Regions from separate parts of the Homo sapiens genome. Here region 1 is linked to region 2. The links come from fine-mapping of genetic effects on plasma protein levels. A gene starts in region 2. The other region holds a variant in brackets. All regions are shown on one strand. Distances are from middle to middle.

Evidence for each region. PIP is the chance, under the fine-mapping model, that this variant and not a neighbour inherited with it causes the effect. Protein levels are from antibody-based Olink assays in UK Biobank. Linkage for the fine-mapping came from a reference panel and not from the study's own genotypes, which makes the PIPs less certain.
Region 1: its variant is fine-mapped to the plasma level of the CA13 protein (UK Biobank, PIP above 0.99).

What each region holds. Positions count from the first base shown.
Region 1 is chr8:84,801,603-84,806,988 of GRCh38, reverse strand. RALYL (RALY RNA binding protein like) reads right to left here. Exons shown (of 9, transcript NM_173848.7): 4 at 2,187-2,219. Among named protein-coding and RNA genes, the nearest start is that of LRRCC1, 300 kb to the left of the region's middle. The variant G/T (reference allele first, on the strand shown) is at 3,188.
Region 2 is chr8:85,243,369-85,248,754 of GRCh38, reverse strand. CA13 (carbonic anhydrase 13) reads right to left here and starts at 3,297. Exons shown (of 7, transcript NM_198584.3): 1 at 2,890-3,297. The coding sequence starts at 2,926. LOC105375936 (a long non-coding RNA gene) reads left to right here and starts at 5,270. Exons shown (of 3, transcript XR_929126.3): 1 at 5,270-5,386. RefSeq lists an enhancer at 2,493-2,602 and a silencer at 2,963-3,042.

The DNA of each region.
Region 1 (5,386 bases), 440 kb after region 2:
CCTACGCTGGGGTGAAGTGGTGCGATCTCGGTTCATTGTAGCCCGGACCTGCTGGGCTCAAATGATCCTCCCGCCTCAGCCCCCCAGGTGGCTAGGACTAGAGGCACGGCACCACGGCCAGCTAATTTTTGTAATTTTTTGTAGAGATGATGTTTCACCATGTTGTCCAGCCTGGTCTCGAACTCCTGAACTCAAGTGAGTCGCCCACCTTAGCATACATACTTTTGGACAATCTTATTTAAAATAATTTTCTTGAGGGAACAGAAACATTTAGCTATAAATTAAAATATCCATTCAGCAGAATCATTTGGGTTGCCTTTCACACCACTTTACTTTTAAGACATAAGCAGTATCTTATGTGTGCCATGCTAATTTTCCCACTTTGAGCATTGGCTGAGCGATACAGTATTTTTTTTTTTTTTTGGAGAGATTTTCTCAGGGTTCTAATAATCAGTGCTAAACTGTTGATAAATTTAAAACAAAGATTACTTAGGGTCTGCCTTTTAAAACAGAAGTATGCAATAAAAAAGGAATTCCATCTCATAATAGCCAGGAGAACAGTAAAGGCTGCACAGAAACTACATGAAGTGAGGCGTGAAGAGAAGCTATTTCAGGCCTTTTGACTTGAGGGCAAATACACATGCATTCAAACTAAAAGATTTCTTCAGGTGTAGAGATTTTTAACAATAGGAGCTGATGATCAATGTAGGGAAAAAAGCATGCTTTATCACTTTTTTTGGGCCAGACCAACTCGACCTTTCATTTTCCATGTAGTCTTCAAATAAATGCATATATTCCATTTTTTGTCTTCCACATCCCCTAATAATTATTTTGATTTCCATGATTTGAGTGGCTTTCTGAAAAGCTTTTATGAAGAGTAGAAAGGAATTGGGAACCATGTTGTTGAATGAGTGATTGATAGAAATATTCAATGACCATGTACAAAGTAATAAAAGAAAATTGATCTGGTCACTTAAAAATCTAACCCCATTCCATGTTTCTGGTCATTAAGCATCAGTATTGTGGCTGCCTATATATGACAGCTTTTTTTCCCTCATCAAATATAGCATGATTTCTCTAGGCAAGACATTGCATTTTTCACAACTTTTTCATACAATATCATCTATAATATTGAAAGTGCAAAAGTCCTTTCATAATACACTTTAATATGTTAGTCAAAGGAGTATTTGATCAGATACAAACAACATTGCTTATTCTTAGTTTGAAATGCCTAAAAATAGAACATGTGCACTCATGTCAAAAACATATTATTGTTATTATTTTATTACTATTACTTTTTGGGACAGAGTCTTGCTCTGTCACCCAGGCTGGAGTGGAGTGCAGTGGTGTGATCTTGGCTCACTGCAACTTCTGCCTCCCAGGTTCAGGCAATTCTCCTGCCTCAGCCTCCCAAGTAGCTGGGATTACAGGTGTGTGCCACCATGCCCAGCTAATTTTTGTATTTTTAATAGAGACAGAGTTTCACCATGTTGGCCAGGCCGGTCTTGAGCTCCTGCCCTCAGGTGATCCGCCCACCTCCCAAAAATGCTAGGATTACAGGCATGAACCACCGCGCCTGGCCAACAATATATTATTCTTAAAGATATGTATTGTGACTAAGAAGGATACCATCAGAGCAGGCAAGCGTTCGTCTTATCTAAATTTGCCTCAGGGTTCCTCAGCTTTGGGTGCAAAGAAGCAGTCAATGTGAGTGAACTGGAGAAATTAAAGTGAAATGAGAGATAAGGAGAAAAGATAGATATTGATTGTGAAGACAGACTTAGGGAAGTGGGTGACGAAACAGTGAATAGAGTAGATTGAAAAGAAATGGAGAATGGCAATGGGTAGACAGGCTTGGAATGGTGGAGCTATGGCTCAGAGGAATTTTTAAAACCAATCTGAGTATATTTTTACATGAAGAGAATATGGATGATCACTGTGTACCTTGTTTAGCCTTTATGGAAGATACAGGATTTCATATACATTCATTAGCTGCATTTCTGAGGTCACAATACAACCTAGGGAGCATTTTAGTTAAGTCTTTATAAAACATAGATAGCAATGTTGCATGCACTGATATGTTATGATTTTGAATATGATGTTAAATGACTGAAAATACCATCTCAGAAGTTCTTGGAAATTTGAATTAAATAATTAATACTTAAAGTATTTAAATATATACTTACCCAACAGACAGGAAAGGTTCCTTTGATTCAAGTCTATGAAAAAATATGAAAATTTTCTTTTAATATAAAAATTTGCTGTATATTCAAAAATTGCTTTTACATGAACCTGACAAAATTATTATACTTGTTTGGATGAAAATGCATAATGTAGCACCAGTAAAAAGCTATAAATAATATACTAAGACCTAATCTGGACTAATTCAATTTGCAGCTGGATTAATGCAGAAGCTAAATAAAATGAGAGTCTTGGAATGAGGACATAACATTTAACTGATATATTAAGATGATCATAGTATTAATCTAATTCTGATTGCACTCTCTGTATCTACTCATTTTCTTTATACATGGTAATTTGTTTGTAGACGTTTCTATATATCTATTTGTGGTTGTTGTAATAGTGAAATAATTTATAATGTGCTTGTTACATGTTAGTTGAATAACTGATTTACTCAGAAGAGAGAAGCAGCATACCATATATAGTTATTTATTGGTCTTAACACCCCTTAGGGTGGGGTAGTGTCAGCTCACAAATTTGGGTCCTTCAGCCTCCTTTGTGCTTCTAAAAACTTGGTATTTTCTGTACCTCAATATCTCAAAGGGAAAGTCTAATCCTGAAGGTTGTGGTTCATTTGAGAAAGCCACTTTAAAACATATTCTGTGTTTTATTTTTCTCATTATAAAATGGGCTAGGCTTACTTTCAGCTACTTTTCTAATTTCATAAATTAACTTTCCATTTTTTTTACAACATGTAAGTAAATCAGGAAAGCATCCACTTCTAAATAGTTCCTAGATAATAATTAAGGAAACCTGTTGGTAAGTGTATTTTGGCCACGCTAGTTTCATTATAGGTTTCTTAAGATACAATTAAGGGTGAAATGTAGGCGAACTGAAGATATTTTTAACTAAATCCTGGTGTTTAAGATTTTTAAGAAAGACAGTTGAAATGACTATCTTAGAATTAGGCTAAACATTTATTTTTATAAATGTGAGTCCAAACAAC[G/T]AAGGCACTAATTACTTTTTTGTCTCTATTTCATTCTGTGTAGGCAAAAATGTGCTTATGAGAAATATGCCTTGGTGCATTTATAGGCAGAGCTGACATGCATCTCCGCCATATACCATGCTGCTTTGGGTGAATCATAATGGCAGAAAAGGGATTTTTAGGAAGCAAGTGCCTTAGCAATCCCTTTGGACAGCTCTAGGTAGGGTAGAAGCAGATAAAACCAATAGTTGGTGCTAAGAGTTTGGAGAGGTTTATTTATGTAACCTTTCCTTTTCTGAATTCCAATATTATTCACATCTCTAACTGTAGGTACATTAATTGCCTTATTGTGTTTGTTTTTCTCATACATTTGTGATCTACATAAGCAAACAGAACTAGGGAGGGAAAAGCTGAAGCAACGAAAAATGTTTGGATATATTTGCTTTATAAGACATGACCAGTGCCAAGTGATCAAAAGGAAATTGCCTTGAAGAAATGAGGGGGATTCTACATAATATGATGCAGGAGATTGTTCACATATTTAGACCATCAACACGATAATGGTACTACTTTATTTTCCACCTGATAATACTTGAAATAAAGATAGCATGTGGGCATTAATGGGATCCCTTCTCTCTGTATTTGCCAATAATTTCAGCCTGACATTTATCAGACATTAGTGTATGTGTGTGATTTGCTTGTTTGAAGTGCTACTCTCCAGCTTCCTATGTTCCCCATTTTCTATACACTACATCGTCCCCCTTGCCTCTCACTGGTATGTGATTCTTAGTGGCACTGAATAATATAATGAGAATCTTTTGAAAGGTTTTATATCTTTCTCCTCTCTCTTTTTTCAGCCTCCATGTCTCATTAGTTAGCAAGTCCCATCAATTTTTCCTTTGGGACTCTCATGTCCCCCTCTGCATTCCATTCCCAGCCTGGTTTTCATTAGTTACCCCAGCCTAGTTAGTCTCTCCGAAATTCTTTGTTCAAAGTCACTTCAACTTTACACACTGCTCTCACACTAAGCTTCCATCAATGCTGCCACTCACTTCCTTTGGGCAAGTACTGCATTGCACCACTTTAGGGTGGCATAAGCAACTTGAATAAAAGCAAAGCCCACCACTTTTGATTTTCCCTCTGCAATTATCAAAATACTGAGTTCAGAATGTGTTTGTTTGCAGTAGTATTTATTGATTGATTTCTCTCTCTCTCTCTTTTTTTTTGAAGGTTTCAGACAAGCAACTGTTGGATTAGAGCATACAGGGACATATATTGTCCTACTGCCCCCTGTGGTTAGTATGATTTGTCTGACTAGCTAGTTATTAATAGTTGTCCCCTTCTCCTACCACTTCAAGCCCACTTCAACCAGCTCCTTCCAAATGCTCAAGAGAAGACTTCAGAAGAAATTCAAAGTTTTCAAAATGATGTTGGATTGAAAGTTCTGATGATGTTCTATAAACCAAGAGTTTGCAAACTGTGGCCAAATCCTGCTCACCCTCTGATTGTGTATAGCCCCAAGCTAAGAATGGTTTTTACATTTTAAAGTAGCTGGAAAATATCAAAAGAAGAGTAATAATATTTTGTGACACATGAAAATTCATGAAATTCAAACTTCAGTGTCCGTAAATAAAGCTTACTGAAACAGAGCCATGTGACTTCATTTACATATTGTTTAAGGCTGCTTTGTGCTACGGCAACAAGTTGAGTAGTTGTGGCAGAGCAGACTGCATGTCCAAAATCCTAAAATATTTGCTATGTGGCCTTTATAGAAAAAGTATGCCAGTGTGTGAGATATTATTTTGTTGGAAGGAATTGGAAACAACCTCCTAAAATAGGCTTTCTTTACTTTTAATACATATCAAGTTATTTATTTTCCTAGATTTAGAAATTCAGAATAATTTGAATTCCTTCTCTACATCACCATTTCAACCTCTGATCCTACTAACATATTCACCTGAAATGTTTTTGTGTTACCACCTTTCTTGATTTCATTAATCATAAGAAGATGGTACCCAAACTTTTAAGATCTTCACAAACATGCCCTCACCAGTTTTCCATGTCATTCTTTACTGCTTCTCTAACTAAACAATAAACACTTCATTCCAGAAAAACTAAGTATTGTCCAGACACATCTGATTTGGCTTTGCTTTGGTACACTTAGCATTATATATCTATACCAGAATACTGTTTTTTCCCATGCATGATCTATTTATCATT
Region 2 (5,386 bases):
TATTTTAAAAAGAAGTCAAACCAAAATAAAATAAAAGTAATAATTGTTTGTATCACATTCCCAATATTATCTACTAACTACCATAGTCAGTTCAGTACCCTGCCTCTTAAAGAGGTCCCCTTTTTCAATTTTTCCAAAAAAAATTTCCTCCTCTCCTCCTTCTCCTTGTCCCCCCCATGACCCTGCAGGCTAGTCTGGAACTCCTGGCCTCAGGCAATCCTCCCATCTCAGTCTTTTGAGTAGCTAGGATTACAGGTGCAAGCCACCATAATTCTTTTTCTTTTTTTTTTTTTTTTTGAGACAGAGTTTCACTCTTGTTGCCCAGGCCGGAGTGCAATGGCGTGATCTCCGCTCACTGCAACCTCTGCCTCCCAGGTTCAAGCAATTCTCCTGCCTCAGCCTCCCAAGTAGCTGGGATTACAGGCACGCACCACCACGCCCAGCTAATTTTGTATTTTTAGTAGAAACGAGATTTCTCCATGTTGGTCAGTCTGGTCTTGAACTCCCGATCTCAGGTGATCCACCCACCTTGGCCTCCCAAAGTGCTGGGATTACAGGCATGAGCCACCGTGCCCAGCCAGCATAATTCTTAATTAGAGATATGTGGTGGTTGCTCAACTGATTTAGGAACTTTTAAATACCTACAGTGATATACACTTTTCAGTGATGTCACATTCGCTAAACTAAACTAATAAAGTAGTCAAAGGTTAGGGGAAGAATCCTAAGTTATTTGTGAAGGCAGTACCCTTTCAGGGCTTCAAGTCTTGATGTTTTATTTTATCAGTGTTGCTATTCCCAGCTTAAGTTTCCTTTTATCTGCTCAGTCACTGGTTTACCAATGTTTAAACAGAAAAAAAAAAAAAAACAAAAAACTTGCCTAGTTAGGCCCAGAGCTGTGGCTCATGCCTGTAATTCCAGTACTTTGGGAGGCCAAGGCAGGCAGATCACTTGAGGTCTGGAGTTCTAGACCAGCCTGGCCAACATGACGAAACCTTGTCTCTACTAAAAATACAAAAATTAGCCAGGCATGGTGGCTCATGCCTATAATCCCAGCTACTTGGTGGGGCTGAGGCTGGAGAATCGCTTGAACCCAGGAGAGGGAGATGGCAGTGAGCCAAGATAGTGCCACTGCACTCCAGCCTGGGCAACAGAGCAAGACTCATCTCAAAAACAACAAACAAACAAACAAAAAACTTGCCTAGTTAGTATATAATACATTTCCAATAGGATTTTCCCAATCTTTCTCTGAAGACCACACCTTTAAGTAAGGATGTGGTCTTCAGAGAGAGATCGCATCTAAAAGAAAGGAATGGCTAATTCCTAACAGAACAATTCCTAACAGAAATACAAAATCACTCCTTATTAATGGCTTTGCTAAGATGAATTTTTAAAATTGCTGAAATAAGCTTCATTCAGGTGAATAATTTCTAACCTACTAAAGAGTAATCAATATCCATTGATTGATTGATTGAAATACCCTTCTTCTTCCTAACTACCATAAAGGCGCAGTTGGGATTCAATGACTATTAAATAACTCCAATAAAAACGACTTCAGCAGAGAGGGAAATGAAAAAAGATTTGTCATATTTTCCCCCTAAACATTCACTGGAAATTAGCAAAATGTAAGATTATAATTATGGCCTTAATCAAGAAGAAATCTGACTATACACCTTTTATTATTAAAGTTATAAATTTCACCTGCTGCCATTTTTAAACTAGCATGTTTAAAAACAGGCTACAATTAGAAATTAAACAGGCTACAATTAGAAATAGAATTTTTCTGTTAGTTTGTGAAATTAAACTTTCTATAAAATTTGACCATTCTATACTGTTTAATCATGTACATGCTAATAGAAGGAAAGCATTATTATTCACAGCCTTAATTTTTTTCTTTATTATGTATTTACTTCTTAAATTGACAAAAATTGTATATATTTATGTGTACAACATGATGTTTTGAAATATATGCACATTGAGGAATGGCTAAACTAAGCCTTAATTTTGACAGTTATTCACTATAAGGCTTTTTGGTGTCACTGCGATTATTTCAAATAATTATTATTTAAACAATCAGTTCAGTTTAACGTAGGAACAAGAAAAAATGTTTTACTTTTGATAATGTGTGATATACAAGAAGAAAAGTGTATGTCATTATTATTTATCCTATTAATACATTTCTATCAATGAATTATAATTTCAGTAATCCTTTGCTCACCCTGCAAGGATGAGCGTGGAGAAGAAGAGTGGAGAAGTAACCCACAATGTAACTTAATTTCCCAGCGAGAACCTGAACCCTTACTAAAGTCCCCAGTAGTAGTCAGCCAACTGCAAATTGCTGTGGGAATATTTACAGTAACAACTATTAGGAAACATGCAGTATTTTGTTTGCCACGAAGCCAACTTAATCTTCAGTGTCACAATGCAAGTTAAGATTTCCTAAATATATTTTTAAAGATTTTCTATGATTTGTTTCTCCTAAGTGAATAGTGAGCTTAAAAGACTGAAAGCGAACTTGTCCTTATTTCACTGAAGTGTGTCATCAGACTTCTGATCTCCAAGCCTGTAATTGATACGTGGCTGTTACTAGGCAAAGTCCTTGGCTTTTCAGATGAAGGTGAACTCACACGTATGAACACTTGGGAGTTTGGGGAATCCTGACAGAGATAACACACACCAACGCTCACATCCACCACCAACAACCCGTCTACCCTGACAAGACTGCTCTCCGCTTCTCGCACTGGGCTCCCAGGAGTGCTGCTTAGTTTAAAGAGGAACCGAAAAAGTTTCTCAATGTGCGAGCCCAGTGTGTGGTCAGCGAGCGCCGGGGCGTCGCGCTAGTCCTCTCGTCCCCCGCACAAACCCCCCCTTGGATCAGGAAAAGGCGCTCACCGTTGTGCTCGCGGTATCCCCAGCTGAGCCTCGACATGGTCCCTCGGGGTGGAAGGAAGAGAAAGATGTGACTGAGCAGCGAGAAAGAGGAGGGAGCGGGGAGGGGCCCGGGAAGGAGCCTGCTAGGGCGGGACCGCGGGGCGCCGGCGGCAGGAGTGCGAGACCGTGAACCCGGTCCGGGGCGCTCCCGCCTGCGTCCTCCAGACGGCAGAGGCGTGCGGGGAAGGCGCCCGCGCCGCTGGCTGACTCCTGGGGCGCGAGTCTCTCTTAGTTTGGACTCGGGAATGAGAGATTTGAGTTAGAGGGAGAGACGGAGAGAGAAAGGTTTCCGGGGGGGATCTCCTGCCTTCTGAGGAGTCGTCACTCGGGAGAGGAAAGTGTTGCCTAGAGGACTTCCAGGAAGTGAATGAGTCACCAGAGCCTGGAACTGCCAGGCTGGGAGGTGGGGATCCCGGTGGAGGCGTAAAAGAGGTCGGTGATGGTCGTGGCAGTGATGATTACAAATACAAAACAATAATGACGATGGTAATCACCACCACTGAAAAATAACTACTTATTAAGGGCTTATCGTGGGCGAGGGTCTTAGCTAAGACGTGTACCCACGTTTTCCCATTAGATCCTCTCAGCATTTCCTCGAGAAACACGTGGCTTAAGTTAGAGACACTATGTAACCTGCCCCGGGTCGCTCAGCTAAAGCGGGCGGGGTCGCTGTTAGAGAGGACCAGCTCCCGGTCCTGGGCTGGCTCCATTGCCCATTCATCCTTTCCTTACCTCTTCTCACTCTGCAGGCTTGTGGCTTGGTGAGTGAGGAAACCAAAACCAGTTGTTGAGATTTGGTCCCAAAATTCTGCTGCCCTCCTGACCCCGCAAGAAGGGTTTTCAGGACATCTGCCCTGGATTCTTGGTGGGCTTGTTACCCTAGGACTGGAGTCAGAACTAGCTGCAGAGTCTTGAATTTCTGGCCTGGAGTCGTGAATGTTCTGGGTTCAAAGTGAAAAATAAAAATTGGGTACATGAACCACTTTCTACGTCCTTGTCTCGGGTCAACTGCCTCATATTTTATAAATCCAAGCAACCTCTTTGTAAGGAACCTAGTAAACCAATTTTCAGTAACTCGGATGATTTGGTATGTCAAGATGAATAATGCTCTTAACGTTCTAAGTAAGTATCAGTTCTTGACACCCAATAATAGTGGTTACATGAATGGATGAATGACTGAATAGACCAAAATTGTTAAAGAAATTTTGGTTGGTGGGTCTCAAATACTTCCCAAATTGTTACTTTTATTGCTTGGGTACACAGTTTGTAACCACCCAATGGGTTTACCTTGCCCACTGTCAAGACACAGCTGATTTATCAAGACAGGGGAATTGCAATTCATAAAGGGAAATTCACGTAGAGCCGGCTGTGCAGAGGACTGGAGTTTTATTATTACACAAATCAGTCTCCGCAAGCATTGGGGATCAAAGTTTTTAAGGACAATTTGGTGGGTGGAGGAGAGCCAGTAAGTCGGGAGACCTGGTTGTTTGGGTCAGAGGTGAAATCATAGGGAGTCAAAGCTGTCTTGCATTAAGTCAGTTCCTGGGTGGGGGCCATGGGATCAGATGAGCCAGTTTATCGAGCTGAGTGGTGCCTGCTGATCCATCCAGTGCAGGGTCTGCAACATATCTGAAGCACTGGTCTTAGGCTTTACAATAGTGATGTTATTCCCAGGAGCAATTTGGGGAGGGTCAGAATCATACAGCCTCCAGCTGTATGACTCCTAAACCATAATTTCTAATCTTTTGGCTAATTTGTTAGTCCTGCAAAGGCGGTCCAGTCCCCAGGAAAGAAGGTTTGTTTTGGGAAAGGGCTGTTATTGTCTTTGTTCTAAACTATAAACTATGTTCCTCCTCAAAGTTAGTTCAGCCTATGCCTAAGAATGAGTAAGGACAGCTTAGAAGTTAGAAATAAGATAGAGTTGGTTAGGTCCAATCTCTTTCACTGTTTCAATTATAATTTTGCAGTAGTGGTTTCAAGTTCCTTCTTGTTTAAATTCATAGCGCAGTCTATATAATTTTCTAAAACAGCAACCTAAGTATTGGCAACAATCAAATTACCTTTCATAGGAAACTAGTTAGGTCATCTGTAGAGCATCCATCATTCAATGGACTTATATATATATATATTTTTTTCAGATGGAATTTCGCTCTTGTTGCCCACGCTGGAGTGCAATGGTGCGATCTCGGCTCACTGCAACCTCCACCTCCCAGGTTCAAGCAATTCTCCTGCCTCAGCCTCCAGAGTAGCTGGGATTACAAGCATGCATTACTAGTGGCTAATTTTTGTATTTTTAGTAGAGATGGGGTTTCACCATGTTGGCCAGGCTGGTCTCCAACTTCTGACCTCAGGTGATCCACCCGCCTCGGCCTCCCAAAGTGCTGGGATTACAGATGTGAGCCACTGCGCCCAGCTGCCATTCAATGGACTATTGTCCATTTATAAAAAGAATGAAGAT